Regions from separate parts of the Homo sapiens genome. Here regions 1, 2 and 4 are each linked to region 3. Evidence: fine-mapped expression QTL. A gene starts in region 3. Each other region holds a variant in brackets. All regions are shown on one strand. Distances are from middle to middle. Region 1 has its middle 55 kb from the start of ACADSB. Region 2 overlaps ACADSB (acyl-CoA dehydrogenase short/branched chain). Region 3 holds the start of ACADSB (acyl-CoA dehydrogenase short/branched chain). Region 4 has its middle 26 kb from the start of C10orf120.

Region 1 (5,038 bases), 55 kb before region 3:
GGATGTGCCTGAGGTCCAACATCTTTCGCGAGGCTGGAGGGCTCTGCCCAGGACCCAGCTTCCTGGTGTCCCCCATGCCATTCCCTCTTGCCCTCTGATGCACTTCCTTGGGGTGCTAGTCTAGGCTACTTATGGGACCTGATCATCTCTCTCTCTCTTTCCCCAACCTAGGGAAATTTCTCTTTAATTTGGGGAAAATTCTTCTCTCCTCAGGCCTTATTCTTCACATGGGACTTAATTTCCTCCTTTCCTTTCAAACCTTGTCCTTCTCTATGGATTTAGACTTTTAGACAAAAGTCAGGAGGTGCTGCCACCAACCTCAATGGAGGCAAGAATCGTTGGAGCCCGCTTGAATAGGGAGAAGAGAAAAGGGAAAAAAAAGTAGTAGCTCCCCAAATTAAGCTTGCCATACTCCTTCAAAGCCCAAAGTTCTTAGAGACCATACAGCTTGCTTGGTCAGGAGCTCTGGGCACCACCTACTACTTTGAGGGAGAAACTGCTGCATCTTCAAGAGCAGTACAGATGGACAGAACTTTCAGGTAAAACAAAAATGCTAGATGTCTGTGCTGCCCAACATGGTCGCCACTGGCCACATGTGACTAATGAGCACTTGAAACATGGCTAGTATAACCAAGGAAAGGATTGTTCATTTTTAAAAATTTTAACTCATTTAAATTTAGATAGGTATTTGAAATCATAAAAATATAGATAATTTCTCAAATTGTTTTATAAAGAAATACAATACAAAACCAACATCTGATTAAAAGCATAAAGAAGAAGAATAGATGACTCTCATTATGAATATATATGCAATAATCCTCCGAATAAAATAGCAAAAGACCAAAAAATAACTTAAATAGACACACATGGCTGGCTGGTGGCCATTGTATTGAACAGCACATTTCTAGAGAAATGATGGAAGAGGAGTATAATCCAGCTTACATTTGAAAGAATGTCTCAGGCTGTTAGATAGAAAGTGGATCGAACAGTGGGAATAGTGGAAGCTGGAAGCCAGTTGAGAGGCTTATTGTGCTGTTCTGAGTGAGAAGTCATATCTTAGATCAGACTATGGTGTTAGTGGAGAATAAAGACTGGACAGATTTAAAAATTACTTTGGAGGTGGAACCAGTGGTGGCAGCCCACTGGTGACTGGGACCCAGGTGCCACACTCCACTCTGAAACCACATTTGGAGTTAAACCGACTCACCCTCCTTACGAATTGTTTTGGACCACTCATTAATTTTCATGGATGCCCTTGATGGAGGACATGTCTTCTTCCAGTGTGGACACCGTTTCAAGCCACGTGAGGTACCTGAGACAAGGATGGCACCCCCTCTATCCAAGTGGTTTATCAAACTGCAAATCCACTAATATGAGCTGGCAAATACCAAAGGTTGATTTTCCAAATGATGTTTTAATGTCCCCAAGCAAATCTTAGCTGCCCCCACTCGAATAAAGACAATGAGTAAACGAAAAGAGAAATCATTATTATGCAGCTACTCTTTAAAGAAAAAGCACTAACCAAACAGGGCTTCCTATCTGGCCATCCGTCTGACAGATATGTTTTCTCAGCACCTACTCTCAGCCTTTTTGGAGGCTGCTCCAGAAAGGGGCTGGGGAAAGAGAAGGTTCTTTCTATTTTACCCCAAATTAGGTAATTCCACCAAAGCTCTTCAGGGTTTGGCTTCTCTTCCCTCCTTCTGTCTTTTTGTGTTCCAATGGTCAGTTCCAGAAGTTCCATGAGTTGGCTTGTCTTTCCAACAGTTTCACATGGTGCCTGAGCAACATTTTGCAATATTAGTAATTCCCATTACTCCTACATTATATTAACTCCATAGGTCTAGTTGTAACATGCATGGCACGTGATTGTAATTCTCTACATTAGCTGATGGACATTGAATGTAGAATTGTGAATAGTCTTATTTTTTACAAAAAATATTTAGTAACATTTAATTAAAATTTCAACTTGCCCATTGGTTAAGGGAAAGTTTGTTTCAGTCTCAAAATGCTCTTTATTACAAAATACACTTAAAATGCACTGAGCAACAATCAATAAACATATCCTTAGCCTTTGTCTACTTGGAAAAATCAATAGGGTTGGTACAATG[G/A]AGTATTAATGCGTAAAGGAACTGTATGTACATTTTACAGCGATGGGTTTCTGTTATAGACAGAATGTAAAATAAGGTAAGGCTCGAAGAGCTGTCCACTCAGCCAGATGTTCTCCCTTCAGACGTCCTGACCCTCCAAAGGCACCAAAACTTACATCCCTACTATGACTTCATCATTAGTTTGCATATCCAAAAGGAAAAAAAATCAATTTCTAAGAGAAATGGTTAGATTTCAAAACACCGCACCTAAGGTGATTTATCTTATCAGCAGTTTCTTCATTAACTCTTGAACTAATAAAGTAAAATCTCATTAAAGCAAGCCCCATGGAGGCTCCTATTTTGGGGTGGAGAACTGTGAACACATTGCCCTAAATTGCTTTTGGTTCCACCGAACTCGGAGAACAGTTGGTGCCTGGCTTCTCTGCCTCACACTGGGAGAGTGAATGGGGATCCGCAAGGACCTCTGACCTCAGGAGGATGGAGGGAAGGGGCTCGCCTGCTCCCCTTCTGCTTCTTCACTAAGCAGGTGGGTCTCTAGGGAGCTTGGGGTTTACCTCGTTGGTCCTGCTGGACTGGGGTGCTGGGGAGAAGTTGGAAAGGAACGTGGACTTTGGGGATGGAATCATTTTGAGCAACTACTCAAGTCTTAGTGTGCGATGAAAATCCCTTGGCAGGTTACTAAACATGCAGATTCCTAGGCCCCAGCCCCAAAGATAAGACTCATAGGTCAGGAAATGTGCCTTTCTACAGACATCTCAAGTGATCTGGGGGCAGAAAGCCCAGGAGATGACCAGTCCTTCCTGAGTACTTCATCTGACCTTTATACTACCAGACTTACGTAAGACTTCCTGATCTCTGTCTCCTACTCTCATCCTTCACCTGCATTTTAGACATAAATTTCCAAAGCCAGCCAGGTGCGGTGGCTCACGCCTGTAATCCCAGCACTTTGGGAGGCTGAGGCGGATGGATCATGAGGTCAGGAGTTCGAGACCAGCCTGACCAACATGGTGAAACTCCATCTCTACTAAAAATACAAAAATTAGCCAGGCGTGGTGGTGGGCACCTGTAATCCCAGCTACTCAGGAGGCTGAGGCAGGAGAATTGCTTGAACCTGGGAGGTGGGGGTTGCAGTGAGTCGAGATCGCACCACTGCACTCCAGCCTGGGCGACAGAGTGAGACTCCATCTCAAAAGTAAATAAATAAATAAATATAAATTTCCAAAGCCTGCTAGATAGATCTAAAAATAAACACTATAGCCAATGACTGGAACACTCTGGGAATAGTATTCCACAGTGTGCACTTTGAGGTCTCTTGGAGTTATTCTAAAAGCACAGTGAGGTTTAGAACCAATTGTATAGAGAATGAAGAGGCACAATAGCAGAGTCTTGATAAAAAAATTTCCATTTAAGGCCAAAGAAGCCAACGAAGAGTCAGTGAAAAAGAGGAGGTGCTTTGTCAAAGGAGCAGAGCCTGTAGGAAGATGAGGGGTGTCTGAAACTATATAAATTGGGACAAATATAATAGGCCACCAATTAAAGGTAAAAAGATGGCTTTTGAGAACATTGTTTTGGTTCTAAAGAGAAAGAGAAAAGTTATATGAACGTGGTCTCTCTCTTTCTCATTGTCTCATTGTCATACTCACCCTTCTTGTGATGGTGTGAGATGGTAAAATGTGTATGGGATAGGATGAAGTTGTGTGAATGGCGTAGGCACTGTGATGTGCCTACTAGTGATTCAGCCACTATCGACCTTCTGACAACGTCTCAGAAGATGGAGCCTCTGCTTTGTGTGATCCTAGATCACCAAGCATGACAATGAAGATGGCGGGATGTCAAGAGCAGACAGTGTTGATGACCAAGAAGGGGGTAGAGCAGACAACATGGATACGCTGGACAAAGGGATGATTCACGTTCTTATTGGGACGGAGCAGAATTGTGCAAGATTTCATCATGCTACTCAGAACGACGTGCAATTTAAAACTTGTATGTTGTTTGTTTCTGGAGTTTTGTTTAATATTTTCAGATCACAGTTGATGCAGGTAACTGAAACTGCGGGTAAGGGAAGACAATCATGTTTGTAGGTTGTAGCAGGGAGCCCATAGGGCTAGAAAGTCTACAAAGAAAATCAAGAGAGAATAATGGCTCAAGTTCCTAGGGGAAGTCTTCTCTCTTTCTCTTCTTTCGGTATGACATCAAGACAGACTGACCAACCTTTTCAGTCAAAATTTGATTTAGAGGCAATCATTTAATCAGGGGTTGGAAAACTTTTTCCTAAAGGTGCTAGAGAGTAAACATTTTAGGCTTTGTGGGAAAGTGGCAAAATTGAGGATACTGTACATAACTATATAACATTTAAAACATAAAAACACATTCTTAGCTTGTAGGCCATAACGAAAATAGGCAGTGGCTTGGATTTGGCCCATGGGCCATACTTTGTCCATCCAATTTAAACAAAGGACCTGTGTCCTTTGACTTGAGTAGAAGTTTTGAATTTTTCCTTTTTCCTTAATGCAAATGCTTCATGTTCAAGGAAATATTACATTTGAATACTCTGGGTCAAATCATAGAAAATCAAATCACAACTAAAGACAAGATCCCAATCCCAAGCCAGTGCAAATGGCCCAATTTATACCTGAAAGCAAAAAGCCCTCTCTGTGAAGTTCTGCTTGGCAAAGCAAGCCATGCATTGCTTTGCTTAGGACAAGCATTTAAACCTGAACAGTGCTATTTACCTAGGGAGGTCAAACCTTCATAGGTTTCAGATCTCTTTTCTGTGCTCTCTATGTCAGAGTCTACTCTCCCGTGAGGCTGAATAGAGCTGCCGATTTCACTGTGGCTATTTGAGAAAAGTAGAAAAATCAGTTAAAGGGAGAATGATGCACAAAAGTAAAAGATATCAGTAGCCTAGTAGGTTGTTTTAATTTTATATT
Region 2 (5,033 bases), 31 kb before region 3:
ATCATGAGAATGTCATGTTCTCAATTTAATTTTACTATATAAAGTTTTAGGCCAGGTGCGGTGGCTCATGCCTGTAATCCCAGCACTTTCGGAGGCTGAGTCGGGCGGATTACCTGAGGTCAGGGGTTTGAAACCAGCCTGGCCAACATGGTGAAAAAACGTCTCTACTAAAAATACAAAAATTAGCTGGGTGTGGTGGCAGGCACCCGTCAGGAGGCTGAAGCAGGAGAATTGCTTGAACCCAGAAGGCGGAGGTTGCAGTGAGCTGGGATCACAGCCTTGCACTCCAGTCTAGGCAACTAGAGCGAAACTCCGTCTCAAAAAAAAAAAAAAAAAAAAGTTTTAACAATTTAATTCAATTGTTACATTAGTGAAAATACTGTATTTACTGGTGAAAAAATGTATTTATTATTTTGCTATATGTCTATTTTCCAACTGAATAAAATATTCTTAAAAATAAATGTACTAAATAGGTACTTAAATTCTTCATTACTAAACAGAAATTGGAAATTCAACAAAATTAAAGATTAGGGCCAGGTGCAGTGGTTCACGCCTATAATCCCAGCAATTTGGGAGGCCGAGGCAGGCAGATCATCCGACGTCAGGAGTTTGAGACCAGCCTGGCCAACATGGCGAAACTCTGTCTCTACAAAAAATGCAAAAATTAGCTGTGCGTGGTGGTGCACACCTGTAGTCTCATATACTTGGGAGGCTGAGGCAGGAGAATCGCTTGAACTCAGGAGGAGGAGGTTGCAGTGAGGTGAGATCACACCACTGCACTCCAGCCTAGGAGATACAGCGAGACTCCATATTAAAAAAAAAAAAAAAAAGAAAAGAAAAAAGATTAGCTTCCTACATAACCCATTAGGAGCTAAGTAACAGTTGGTCCTCCACAAACAGTCATCCCTCCATATCTGTGGCGGAGTGGTTCCAGGACCCCCATGGATACCAAAATCTGACAGTGCTCAAGTACCTTACATAAAATGGTGTAATATTTGCATATAACCTATGCACATGCTCCGGTAGACTCTAAATCATCTCTAGATTATCTGATACCTAACATAATACATGCATGTCACTTTATTCACGTGAATTCAATATGGTAGTTGGCACAAAGCAAATTCAAGTTTTACTTTTTGGAACTTTGCAGAATTTTTTTTTAATCAAATATTTTCAATCCAGAGTTGGTTGAATCCACAGATATGGTGGGCCAATTCTAATTAATAATTTTGTCAACAATATTTACTTTAGGAGATTAACGAAGTGAAAAAATGCCAGCTCAAGTCTGACATTTTCAGTACTGAGAAGACTAAAGAGTTCAAGATGAAGTCCTAAAAAGGAAACAGAAGGAGGAAAAGATAAAGAAAGAGAAAAGAAGGGGTTTGGAAAAAGAAAGAAATTTCGTTTTCAAACTTACAATGGTAGGGTCTACATTTGCCATCACCAGAAAGAGCCCTGCGTGCTCAGCACTGCTGATCCACATCTTTGATCCATTGAGGACATAATAATCTCCCTCTTTATCAGCTCTGGTCTTCAAAGCAAATGAGTCACTACCTGCTCCAGCCTCTGAAAGGCAGAAACTTCCTACCTACATATGGGAGAAAAAAATGTCCAAATTAATAACTGTATTTATACTCTGTATAACAAATACTTATGGAAAAATGGACATTTGTAAATCAAATCTTTAGCTGCTTTTTTAAAAAGCCTATATTTATGAAAATAGCAATGGTATTCTGAAAGTATTATTTTCCAAAAAATATACCCTATTTGTCCAAGACAAATTTAAAGACTCACGAACACATACTCATTGAAATTGATTTGAATAATTACAGCAGAAAGACATCACAACGTAAATGAAACCATCAACAAACGTATTAGAAAATATAATCAGGACAAAAAGAAATAATTTTATTATCTGATGATTATTTTCTAAATTTCCAACTGGCAAATAAGAGGTAGAGTGTACTTTTCCAGCAGCATTAATTTATCAAGCATTGCTTGAATTAATGATACCGCATTGTGGTCTTGGATAGTAAAGTCGACATTGCAGCTACTTTTTTCCTGAAAATATTGTAAACTTACTAAAGATTAGATCCATTAGATCAACAATTCATCTCAACTCACTTTTTCTGTAGTGAGCTGAGGCAAATAGGTGGCCTTTTGTTCTTCTGTTCCATGTTTTCTAATCAGTGTGTTAATTAATGTGTTCTGGATCTCACAAAAGACAGCCACAGATGCATCAACTTTGGCTAATTCCTCTATCACGAGCACAGTGGATAAAAATGAAGCTCCTGTGCCTCCATATTCTGGGTCAACTTCAATACCCATCAACTAAAGAAAAAACAAGGCAACATAGATTAAGAAAGCTATTTTTATATGGGGAAATTTCTTGCATGAACAAGTTAAAAAATAAACTGTAACCATATTTATTATTATTATTTTTTTTTTGAGACAGTCTTGCTCCGTCTCCCAGGCTGGAGTGCAATGGCGCAATCTCAGCTCACTGCAACCTCCACCTCCTGGGTTCAAGCAATTCTCCTGCCTCAGCCTCCCAAGTCACTGGGATTACAGGTGCCCACCATCACACCCAGCTAATTTTTTTTTTTTTTTTT[TA/A]GTAGAGATGGGGTTTCGCCATGTTGGCCAGTCTGGTCTCGAACCCCTGACCTCAGGTGATCCACCCACCTCAACCTCTCAAAGTGTTGGGATTACAGGCGTGAGCGACTGTACCCAGCCACCATAATTATTCTTAATTTTAAAATTTTGTATTTATATTTTATTTTAATTTGGTATAGCAATTTTGCCATAAGTAACAAAAAAATCTGTAACAGAAACTGTATATTTGAAAAGGATAAAATTATATGCTATCATTTGCTTCCTTTTGGGATTCAAAAAATAATGAGAGGTAAAATGCTTTAAAGGGTAGCTTAATGGAATGAGAAAATATCTTATATACTTAGATGACCTTTCTTGCTAAGAACTGTTGTTGCCTGCTTAAAGCAGGTAGGTGGGGTTTTGATTTTTCAACATGCCCTACCCACCTTATGCTGATTTCAATGTAATAAGGAAACAGAAGAAAATAACCTACTCCTCAATGGGATGTCTATAGTTTCATTTGGCAAAGTTTCTTCTAGTCAGGCTCTTTCACCTTGACTTTTTCAGCCAAGTTAATAATTGAATGACCATTCCTTTTACGCCACTTCATAAGTTCAGGATGGTTAGCAGAGAACATGTGGTGGTGTTTGCTAGAGCCACACTAGCCAAAGCACGAGGGCCTGGTAAACACGACCAGTGCCAGCCAAGCCTTTCCAACGACCCAGTTCCATCGTTACTGAAACTCACATAGTACTCTCAATTTCACAAAGAGAATGTGTGCATGTGTAATTCAAAACCCACAGCTGCTAACAGAAGGATAATTCTCTTAGTCTCTCTCTAGACATTCCTGGAGTCACACTATGCTGCAGTCAGGGCTGTGGCTGTTACATTTTGGGCTACAACAGGAAAAGGGAACCAGAAATGCGAGCGACTGAATGGTGAGAAAACCAGAAACGAGGAAGAACGGAAGGATCTGGGTTTGCCTGAGAACTGAGGAGGGCACTCCGGAAACCTCATTACAATGACTCGAACAGATATCAGAGACATTGCTTCTCTAAAAAAGTCACTAATCTCTCCCAACGTGGAAATAGTGTTTTTGCAAGCCATTATGCCAAAAACCCAGGACAATGGGAGTGAGGAGGCAGGTGAGGCTGCATCTGCACAGGAGTGGTTTGTGGAGATGAGTAGCAGGGTGCAGGCAATGCATCACTCTGCAGACAGCCCCGCTGCAGGAACGACCACCGCGGGGGAGATCTCACACTGTGAAACCGTGAGACTGCTCCCAGAAGCCTAGAGGGTCTGCAAGCAATAGAAATAAAACCTGGCTGAGAAATGGACTCACAGAGTCCATCTGTTCTCCACATCGGCCTCCTGTTTGACCACTATGGTTCCACATAAGATTCCAGTTTCCTAAGAGTTTGACTGCTAAAAGAAAGATGGAAGAATCACTACTACACACGGTATAAAAAAGCTGGTTGCTTTAAAACAGAAATAAATAAAACTATCTAGCTAAGTGGCAATGGTTATTTTTCAAACCAGATGGCAGACAAGATTTAGGCCAATGGCTCTGAATAGCAGCCACTTGTTCTGGGACATCTTTAGTATTAAAAATTAAAAAAAATATATTTTATACCTCTGCGGAAGTGAGAAATGATGCGTGCAGTGATTTTTAAAATGTTCTTCTAGAAGCCCCTATGCTAATAGCCCCTCCCCCTACTCACAGTGAGAGCGGTTTTACTTGTATCTATTTCATACGTTGTATTTCCATTAAAGAGCTATGTGACTTGAGAAGATGGGAATCTGTTGCCCGGTTTATGTGGAATTCATGTATCACCTCTGCTTCTAAGTTTATCACTTATATAGAGCTTCAGGTAGAATATAAACTATGCTATGAAGTTTCACTATCTAAAGTAGGGTTTCTTCATGGTGGCATTGGGTTGGATAATTCTTTGTTGTGGCAGTTGTCCTGTGCACTACAGGATGTTGAGTGGCATCCCTTGTCTCTATCCCACTAGATGCCAGTAGCACGCCTTAGCTGTGGCAACCAAAGATGTCCCTAGACGTTGCCCAATGTCCCCTGGAGGGCAAAACTGCCCCCATTTGAGAACCGCTGGTCTAAAGATACAAATAAATTACCATCTTACTTCCAAACTTTTCCTTAAAATATACAGTATTTCAAATTAAAAAATGTTAATTCCATTTTTAAGAACTTTTAAGTACATAAATATCAAGTAGGATTTCAACCAAAAAAAGAAAACAGATAATTTTGACTGGGAAATGCAGGGTTCATTATGCTATCATTACAGTCCCTGAATTTAATTATAGAAGCTTGAAAGTGGAAGAATTATGAAATGTACCCCTTGTTGAAATAATCCTTGTATTACTGATTTCTCCATTTTCGAATTTTCATCCATGGTTGAAACCAAAGGTGCAATTTGTTC
Region 3 (5,038 bases):
AGAGTGAAAACTTGTCTAAAAAAAAAAAAAATCATCTCTTAAAAGACATCAAGCGGCCTGGTGTGGTGGCTCACGCCTGTAATCCCAGCATTTTGGGAGGCCATGGCGGGTGGATCATGAAGTTAGGAGTTTGAGACCATTTCCATCTTGCTGACCAAGATGGTGAAACCCCATCTGTACTAAAACTACAAAAATTAGCCAGGCAAGGTGGCAGGCGCCTGTAATCCCAGTTACTCGGGAGGCTGAGGCAGGAGAATCGCTCGAATCCGGGTGGCATAGGTTACAGTGAACTGAGATCGCACCACAGCACTCCAACCTGGGCGACAGAGTAAGACTCCGTCTCAAAAAAAAAAAAAAAAAGATATCAAGCTACATTAAAATGCTTTGGAACCACAGGTTAACTACAAGGTCCAATTCTCCACTAATTGGGTTGCTTAGACCAAATGGGCAGGACAGTTCTAATCCATCTGCAGGACTAGGAGAGACCTTCTGAGAAGGCAGGGGTAGGCTGAAGGTCAGCATTGCAATCTGATTGTTATGTGACTTGGGAACACTGGTTATTGCCTCCGAGTTCCTCATTTGCAAGATGAAGCCACTAATATACCTACTTCAGAGGTTTACAGGAAGAGTAAATAGGGTAGTGGGTGTAAAATGCTGTCCCTGGTCTACAATAAGTGAGTAAATGCTAGCTTTCCATTTGCCTCTGGATAGAAACCAAAATTAGCCCTACCTTGCATTTCTCCCCACTCCATGCCACTTGTGTCCACAGCCATCTACCTACACTGTGGCATGAGGAAACTCCAAAGCTCTTGACCTTCAATGGCTCCTAACAATCCAAAAGGATCAACCCCCAATTCCCTAAAGTGGCCTCAGTCCCCTTTTGTTGCAGTTTTCTGACCACTCCTTTCCCCTCCTAAACTCTAACCCAGCTTCCAAAGAGCCTATCACTTCCCCAATGGTCCTAGTCATTTCTATCTTCTGAATCTGCACGCAGACTGTAGCCCCTTAGGATTTGTTCCACACCTACATGACATGGGGTTAGTTGCACATAGTTCTAACCTTTCCTCTAAAAGATAAACTTCTTGGAGGTAGAGTATTTTATTCATTATTACATCTGGCATAGCACACAATGCTTCGTGCATGGCAGTAAGAGCTGATATTTACCGAGAGCTGACTACATTCCGAGCACTATTCTAAGTGCCTTACATGAACATATGAGCTCATTTAATTTTCACAACAATTTTGGAATACGCACAATTATTCTCTCCATTTACAGACCAGGAAACTGAGACCCAAAGCATAACCTGTCCAAGGTTATACCACTAGGAAGTGAGAGGGCCTGGGTTCAGATCCAAGCAGCCTAGCTACAGAACCTACGTTCTTAACCACTATGCTACAGTCGATGTTCAATCAATTTAGCTAATTTATGTAAAAGAGCTTCAAAAACTATAAAGGACTATAAGCCACAATAAACCAAAAGTTCAAACAAAATAGGTTTTTGATATCTCTAAGGACGGGGAGACAGTAGTATATGAAGGTTAAGTTTAGAATCAGACCAGAGTTCGAATACCACCAGCTCTATCCCTTTCTATCTGTGGGCAAGCTATTATTCTTTTTCAGCATCTGCAAGATTAAACTACTTGTTAAGATGGTTGTGAGAATTGAGATGACTCAGGTAGAACGAGAACGTGCCTACCACAGAGTATGCGGTCAATAAATTTTGGCTCTAAAACAGAGTCAAATTGTAAAACCAAAGAAATTTTCTTTGCTAAGTTATTAACCAACAATTATAAACAGTATTAAACAATAATCACTTACTGTTTTTTATTGCACTTCAGGCCTGTAAAACAGTCAAATAACATTAATTATCTCTAATAAGAAAAAGGGTCAGAGTTCTGCCTCTGGGCATAAGACTGAAGCAGCAGTTGGAAAGCCTAACTCATTAAAGCAAATGCAAAGGAAACATTAAAAGCACACGTAAGCAGTGGGAAAATTCCCAGTGAAGTGTACTGACAAATACAAGTGTATCCAAATGTGTATGTTCTGAAAAGCATGCTATATAATAGGTCCAAGGGGTGAAGAGCATAGGATGTTAACACAGGGGCTGTTAACAGTTTGTGTGGGTGCACAGATAAGAATTAAGCACAACAAGAGGCTGGTTTCAGCTTAAGTTCATGGAAGAGGGACCGGCACCGGCTCCGGCTCCCCTGGGCGGCGGTGAGTCTATCCACGGAAGATACCCAGGCTCCAGACATGAGATAAGGGGCAGAGGGAACTCTGTCCCTGGCCGGGAAGCCCGAACAACTCCGAAGTCCCTTACTACCTTTGAGCGGGGCCGCGGAAGGAAGGACAGGGAGACACCTGCTCAGAATGAGACTGGGCCTATATTTTAACTATCTTTTTTGGGGGAGGGGGTGTGAAATGTAATCACTCGGGAAAGGTGCGTTAGGGCATCAGGGAGGTGACATCTGTGCAAAATGCATCCAGAGATCCAGAGATCCAGACTCGGTGGCTCTCAGGACGCAACGGCCTGCAAAGGACATCTTGCGGACGCGACCCTCCGACTCCACTCAAGGTACTTGCTCCGCCAAAGCAGCTTCTAGACAGCCCCGACCCCCTTGCCACCAGCTGCCTCCACCAGAGGCCTGAAGGGGGTCGGGGTCATAGACTGCCCGCGGGTAAAGAGTCTGGGGACCCAGGACGTGGAGCGGGGCTCAGGCCGGCGCCCCGAGGCCCGTTAGAAGGCTCTGCCAGCTGCGATTCCAGGGGCCAAGGTCGCCCTGGGCCCCCAGGACGCCAGCCTCGAACGCACTCACCAGCCTGCTGCCGCGCAGCAACCGCACTGCCAGGCCCTCCATCCTCGCCGCAGGCCTCTCCGCTCTGCGCCTCTGGGTCTCTAGCCAGCCCCTGGGAGTTACCCGAGCAAGGCCCCGCCCACTCAGTACCCGCCCCGCACACACCCCCCCTTAATCCCTGCCCCCTGCTGCCTACGGAACCCCAAGAGAGACAAACAGGCCCCTCCTCGCTTTCGCCCTCCATCCTGCTCACGCGAGACTTGAGCAAGGCAGGGGGGCGGGAAGGGAGTCGGAGACACAACAAAGATGGCGGCGGCGACTGTGACGGTGACGAAGACGGCGGCGGCGGCGACGGCATTTAACAAGGCGGTGTGGTTTACTCCATGCAGTTGTCAGGAGGTAAGTAGCAGGCTGCCGGCTCGGACGGCGGCGACGCGGCAGGACAGGGCGGATAAGAAGGAGCGGCCGGAGACTGGAGCTGGGTTCGTGGCGGGCCGGCTGATCCGGACGGAGACTCAGTTCAGTGGAGGGTCGGGCGTGGTCGGTAGGCGGGCAGGTGATGGCCCGGGACCTCTTTAGCCGGAGGGCAGTGGACTGCGGCGCCTATGGCCGCGAGAACCCCGAGGGAGCGGGGTCTCCTGCTGTCATTGCCTTCGAGCAGGAGCTCGGAGGCTCCGGGGCGGGGACTGTTGCTTGGCTCTGACAGGTGGTTCTGCGGGAGGCGTCCCGAGGTTTGCGTCTTCACGGGGTCCCAGGGGCTGGGAGTCAGCCGGGCGCGGGTCTCCTAGGTGTTTCGAATCCTGGCGAGGATGTCGCTCCGAATCTTGGTGAGGCTGCTGCCCCGACGCCGGTCCCAGGCTGATTGTTGGGAGAAGGACGTTTAAAGCCTTCGTATTTTATCTAATGATCCTGCCCGGATCCGTCTCTACTGCATGGGCACCCTTATTTTAGGAACATGTGAGATTTGAGAAAGACATTGTAGCAAATAACTATTCAGGTTCATTCGGGGTTTAGATCTTTGGATAAACTGTGTGGAGCGCGAGTAGCCAAGCCTAGCATGCTCGATGACTGGATCTGAAGCTAAACAAGTTCTAGCAAACACTAACCACGTGGCCTGCTTAGAGTCCCCTTGATGTGCTGGTCAGAACCCGAAAGACGTGTGACAAGCGGAAGAAGACATAAAGGCGTCTTAAATTGTGTGATCTGAGGAAATTCAGTTTTGAAAGAACAGAATGTATTTAAAACAACTTTTTTTTAAACGTAGGAACTAACAATTTTAAAAATTCAATTTAATTTTGATTTATGTCGTGTTGTCACAACAGCTAAAGGTTATTATTATTGATGAGAGTTCGTTACAGTGAATTGAAATGTCTGGTGTTATTTTCCCCTAGCGGTCCAGGATGTTTCCCAGAAAACCGTAGCTGTTTTGTGTTATGATAGGATAAGAAGGATGGGATTCAGATGTGCCCTTATCGGGTGTGCATGTTTTTTTTGTTTTTGTATTTAAAGCCCTTTCCCATTTCCCTACTTAGGACTATGCGTTGTTTTTATGCAACTACAGCTGTTCAGCAGTACTAAGCTTGACCGTTTTGGAAGTGTGCTGTGACTAAATGAAGTTAATCTTAATTTCTTTAAACTGAAGTTTAACTTAAATTTAGACATTAAAAATCTTGCCAAAAACTAATCCACCAGTGAGAAAACGGTAGTCACACCAGTTATTCTTTGGTGATCCTATGGAGCTTTTGCTGAAGTGAAGCTACTGCTTTGTTCTTTGATTAATCTGTCAGTTCGTTTTCTTTTCAGCTAATGTAATGATAAGATTGGCATAAGTTACTAGCTCATTCAACCTGTAGATGCTAATTAAGTTTTTATCTTAAAGGTTTTGATTTGTGGTGTGCTGTTTGTTTTTTATGCAGACCTCTGTATGGCTTTTCAATTTTAGTTGAAATTCTCTCTCCATGGCCTTTTGGAGTCCCTTGCTGTATCTCCGAAGTAAATTTCAATTACTCTACATTTCATCAATGTTGGAGTGGCAAGAAAAAGGAGGAACAGATTTGGGGTGAAAAGGTTAGATTGTATAATTTCTCTTCTGGATTTCTTTCAACATGGTTTTACTTATGTTTTATTTTTATGTTTTGATTTCTGATTTCTCAGAGCCTCATAATTTCTTTTTTTGCCTTCAAGAGTTTTTGACAGTTCTGAAATCAGGAATTGTGTTCCAATTATTTTGGAAGGCCCATGTT
Region 4 (5,038 bases), 280 kb after region 3:
TCGGCTCATTGCAACCTCTCCTTCCGGGGTTCAAGTGATTTTCCTTCCTGAGACTCTCAAGTAGCTGGGATTATAAGCACGCACCACCACACCAGGCAAATTTTTTTTTTCTTGTATTTTTAGTAGAGATGGGGTTTCACCATGTTGGCCAGGCTGGTCTTGAACTCCTGACCTCAAGTGATTCGCCAGCCTCGGCCTACCAAAGTGTTGGGATTACAGATGTGAGCCATGATGCCCGGCCAAAGTCAGTCTTTAATGTATAAGAACCATGAAGTTAAACAAAGATCTGAGGGCATCCTTGTCTTGTTAAGCAGAAATAAAACTGGGATGTCATTCTTTGTGGAGATGTGTGACTTGCCTGGCTGGGTGGGGACTGTCCATTCCTGGGGACAGTCACACCCTCTGCCCTTCAGGTCCCACCTGCCCGCGGCCCCTCCTCCTCAAGGCCAAGGGGAATGTCTGGCTGTGACTCACCTTCTTGCTGAGTCGCAGGTGTACCTTGGACAGTGCTTCTCTCAGAGCATGGGTTCCACAGCCTTCCTCTGGATCCTCCCACATTTTTCCTGTAGCAAACTGAGATGCATCAGACACGTTACAACCCAGCAGGGATCCTGAGTGTGGCCTAAGACAGTGGCCTCACGGGCCCCACCCCAAACCCACTGGCTCACAGCTGCAGCAGAGGGGGCCTGGGAATCTGAATGGTCGACAGTCCACGGGATTCTGTTGTGCAGCTGAGCTTGGAAACCCATGTCCTGCAATCACTTCTTCTTAAGATCTTGCCTTGGTGTGTAGTTGGTTTTATGACTCTTCCTTTTAATCAAGTATATGTTTGTACCAGTTTTTCCAATTTTATGTCAGCCTGTATACTTTATTACACATCTTTAGCTATCTGTACTTAATCATGGCATTTGCTTTAAGTAAGCTACAATTTACACATAAATTCAACCATGCTTTTTAGTTCATTTGATGTGTTCTAATATCGCATGGGTTTGTCCTTTTTCAGGCATTTTTCCCTTTTTGTGTTTTTTCCTGTTTTTATTTTTATTATGTATTTTTTTCTTTTGGGGGGTTATTTAAGTAAAATTAATTAATTTTACATTTTTGGATTTGTGCTTTAGAGGTAACTTTGGTGAGAGAGGAGGTATTTGGCTAGTGCACATAAACACAGCATAAACATAACCACTTTTAAAAACTGGTTTCCAACTCTTTCTGGTTAGATACAAGAGCTTTCATCTGACCATTGTCACTGCCACAGGGCCAAGGGAGAGTGAGGGTCTGGGCACAGGGACAGCTGTCAGTGTGGCCTGCTGTGGGGGAGCTGACAAGACAGAGGCTGCTGATGCCACTGGATTGGCAATCAAAGGCCAGTACCATTGTGTCTTAAAAAGAGCAGCTTCAGGCTGGGTGTGATGGCTCACACCTGTAATCCCAGCACTTTGGGAGGCCGAGACAGGCGGATCACGAGGTCAGGAAATTGAGACCATCCTGGCTAACATGGTGAAACCCCATCTCCACTAAAAATACAAAAAAATTAGCCAGGCGTGGTGGTGGGCGCATGTAGTCCCAGCTACTCGGGAGGCTGAGGCAGGAGAATGACGTGAACCTGGGAGGCAGAACTTACAGTGAGCCGAGATCGCACCACTGCACTCCAGCCTGGGTGACAGAGCAAGACTCAGTCTCAAAAAAAAAGAGCAGCTTCAGAAAGGAGTTGAAGTGAAACCAGGGTGACTGGGTTAGGAAGTAAGGGGTGAGAATAAGAAGTCAGGACCAACTCCGCTAGAAATCTTGGATGTGAAGCAAGCGGAATTTCCATGAGGGGCTTGGCAGGGTGACTGAAACCCAACTCCTGGTCTTTGATGTAGAAAGTCAACCTCTTCTCAATCTGGAGTAAGCTGAGATGCAGACACACTGCCCATGTATCCCCCAGGGCTGAAGTCACTCTCCCTCCCAGGCTGCTGCAGTGCACCCTGCGGAATGTCCAGGGTGGCCTCAGGTAGGGAGGTGGTGTCGGGTGCTGGGCAGGTGGTCTGAGGGAGCGTTTGGTCTGTTTTGTAGTGTTCAGGGGAATATTTACAATAAGAGATAAGGAGCCAGGAATTAGGGAAGATTTAAGACTAGGCAAGGAGATAACTGGTAGCTCAGTCAGGAGAGGGCAGCACTGAGGGCAGGGGCTGAGGAGGGCAGGGCTTTGGGATAGGATCAAGGAGGCGGAGTGAATGAAACAGGTTGGT[C/T]GTATGTGGTGAGTGTGTGTGTGTGTGTGAGACATTGTGAATAAATGTGTGAGAGTGTATGTGAATGAATGTGAGTGGTGAGTGTGTGTGAGTGGTGAGTGTAAGTGTGTATGTGAATGAATGTGACTGGTGAGTGTGATGGGTGTGTGTGTATGTGAATGAATGTGAGTGGTATGAAAGACAGTGTGTGTGTGTGCGTGCGAATAAATGTGAGTGATGTGTGTGAGTGTGTGTGAATGGTGTATGTGTATGTGAATGAATGTGAGTGGTGGGTGTGAGTGTGAGTGAGTGGTGTGTGTATGTGAATGAATGTGAGTGGTGAGTGTGTGAGTGGTGTGTGTGAATGTGAGTGGTAGGTGTGAGTGTGAGTGCTGTGTGTGTGAATGAATGTGAGTGGTGGGTGCGAATGTGAGTGGTGTGTGTGTATGTGAATGAATGTGAGTGGTGAGTGTGTGAGTGGTGTGTGTGTATGTGAATGAATGTGAGTGGTGAGTGTGAGTGTGAGTGGTGGGTGTGTGAATGAATGTGAGTGGTAGGTGCGAGTGTGTGTGAATGGTGTGTATGTGAATGAATGTGAGTGATGGGTGTGAGTGTGAGTGGTGTGTGTGTATGTGAATGAATGTGAGTGGTGAGTGTGTGAGTGGTGTGTGTGAATGTGAATGAATGTGAATGGTGAGTGTGAGTGGTGCATGTGTGAATAAATGTGAGTGGTAGGTGTGAGTGTGAGTGGTGTGTGTGAATGAATGTGAGTTGTAGGTGTGAGTGTGTGTGAATGGTGTGTATGTGAATGAAAGTGAGTGGTGGGTGTGAGTGTGAGTGGTGTGTGTGTATATGAATGAATATGAGTGGTGTGAGTGTGTGGTGTGTGTATGTGAATGAGAGTGGTGAGTGTGTGAGTGGTGGGTGTGTGAGTGAGTGGTGTGTGTATGTGAATGAATGTGAGTGGTGTGTGTGGTGTGTGTGTATGTGAATGAATGTGAGTGGTGAGTGTGAGTGTGAGTGGTGTGTGCGTGAATGAATGTGAGTGGTGGGTGTGAGTGTGAGTGAGTGGTGTGTGTGTATGTGAATGAATGTGAGTGGTGGGTGTGAGTGTGAGTGAATGGTGTGTGTGTATGTGAATGAATGTGAGTGGTGGGTGTGAGTGAGAGGTGTATTTGTGTGAGTGTGTGTATGTGAACGAATGTGAGTGGTGGGTGTGAGTGTGCATGTGTACAGAGTGGCTCTCAGGGCTGCAGGCCTTGCAACAGGGCTAGGCGGTGTGCTTTCTGCTGAGCATTTGGCCAGAGGTGCTTGGGATCACAGGGCAGTTCTGCAGATCCAGCTGTGATCTGACACCTGGAATTTCCAGCTGACCTTGGTGCCAGGGCTGGGAGTCCCTGTCTGAGGAGGCAGCGGCAGGGCTGAGAGCCTGGGTGGGGTCTGTGGGGGTGAGAAAAGGAGGGGTTGTGGTCAGTGTGGGGTCCAGGCAGAGCAGTGCACACAGCTGAATGGATTGTAAATTGATCATAATGGGGTTTATAGAGACTTTTTAATGATTTCACTAGGATTGTGTTGATTAGATAAATTCTGTGCCAGGGAACAATTGCGTTATCAGAAATTGTCTTTCTCTCTCTGGTGGTCAACAAGTTCCCCCTTTGTCCTCACTTTTCATGTGAATCACCCTAATATCAACTGCACTCCAATAGTCTGCCAGTTCCACAAATCTCTTCTAGTATCAAAGTGACCTGCATGGAACTGCAGTGGTGTCCCTGGGTGGTTGTTTCCAGATGGTCTCACTGGCCCCATTGTCTGTAAGACTCTTGTGCAATCAGCACCAGGAGCCTAGAAAAGCCTATTGGGTCATATCGTATCACTAATCCATGAGTTCCTGGAAGCTGAAGAGCACCCCCTCCATAAACTCTGGGGCAATGTCCGCATCTTGGGGGAGAGGTGCAGTGACAGTACAGGTGGGCACAAAAGGGTTGGAAAAGGGGCAAAGATGAAGGAGGCACCAGGAAGCTGGCAAGAAAATGGCCCCACTGATAACTGAGACTTGCCAATGGTGTCTGTAAGATTACCTGAGCCTCTCAAATATCCCTAGATTTGCAGCCACTCGGGGGAAAAAGCCTCATAATCCTGTTGTTGTTATTTTGAAAAGGATCTCACAAGTGGAGATCAGCTAACGGTGTGATGTTCTCGCTCATTGTGTTTTGTTCATTTTTTCAAACTAGTGATGGAGCGTTCTCTACTCTGCCAACCACTGTGCTAAGTAATGGGCCCAGAGCAGAGCAGCATGTGCCCTCAGCCTGGGAAATGCTCTGGTATTTGGTGGTAAGCTTGCAAATTTCAAAGAAAGCAGAATAAGGCAGGGAAGAGGAGAGCTGAATATTGTTGGAACTGGATTATGAAAGTGCCCAGTGTAATAGCAGTCCTCATTTGGACCCTTTTTCCATTGGGAATTGGATTTTCACAGTGATGTGAGGGAGAAGGGATTCGGGACAGCTGGGACCAGAATGAGGCTGATGTTTGCTTCAAGGGACCCTTTCTCTGCTGTTCCCAATAGATTAGTAGTTATCAGGGTGTAGCCTTAAGAGAAACACTGAATTTGGGGGTGGTTTTCTTTCCGGCTCCCAGAAATCATTAAACTCATTGCAGATTGAGAATTGTCTATTTTGGGTCCTTCCGTCTGTCTAAAATCCTCTGGGAACTTGATTCCAAAGAAATTAAATCATAGACTGATTCCACTTCCCAAGAGTAGCAATACATTTCAGGTAAGGGAAGGAGCCTGGGAGAGCGGGGCAGAGATGACCGAGGTTCATTCTGAATTG

What was found. PIP is the estimated chance that this variant, and not a neighbour inherited with it, causes the effect.
Region 1: its variant is fine-mapped to the expression of ACADSB in whole blood (INTERVAL, PIP above 0.99).
Region 2: its variant is fine-mapped to the expression of ACADSB in skeletal muscle (FUSION, PIP 0.95).
Region 4: its variant is fine-mapped to the expression of ACADSB in cerebellar hemisphere (GTEx, PIP 0.97).

The regions. Positions count from the first base shown.
Region 1 is chr10:123,061,895-123,066,932 of GRCh38, reverse strand. No RefSeq gene overlaps it. Among named protein-coding and RNA genes, the nearest start is that of ACADSB, 55 kb to the right of the region's middle. The variant G/A (reference allele first, on the strand shown) is at 2,109.
Region 2 is chr10:123,037,764-123,042,796 of GRCh38, reverse strand. It overlaps ACADSB (acyl-CoA dehydrogenase short/branched chain), which reads right to left. Exons shown (of 11, transcript NM_001609.4): 3 at 4,950-5,033; 4 at 2,125-2,331; 5 at 1,418-1,588. Among named protein-coding and RNA genes, the nearest start is that of ACADSB, 31 kb to the right of the region's middle. The variant TA/A (reference allele first, on the strand shown) is at 2,613.
Region 3 is chr10:123,006,850-123,011,887 of GRCh38, reverse strand. It overlaps ACADSB (acyl-CoA dehydrogenase short/branched chain), which reads right to left and starts at 2,882. Exons shown (of 11, transcript NM_001609.4): 1 at 2,817-2,882. The coding sequence starts at 2,858. IKZF5 (IKAROS family zinc finger 5) reads left to right here and starts at 3,093. Exons shown (of 5, transcript NM_001372123.1): 1 at 3,093-3,194; 2 at 4,712-4,862. RefSeq lists enhancers at 2,977-3,306, 3,587-3,816.
Region 4 is chr10:122,723,079-122,728,116 of GRCh38, reverse strand. No RefSeq gene overlaps it. Among named protein-coding and RNA genes, the nearest start is that of C10orf120, 26 kb to the right of the region's middle. The variant C/T (reference allele first, on the strand shown) is at 2,232.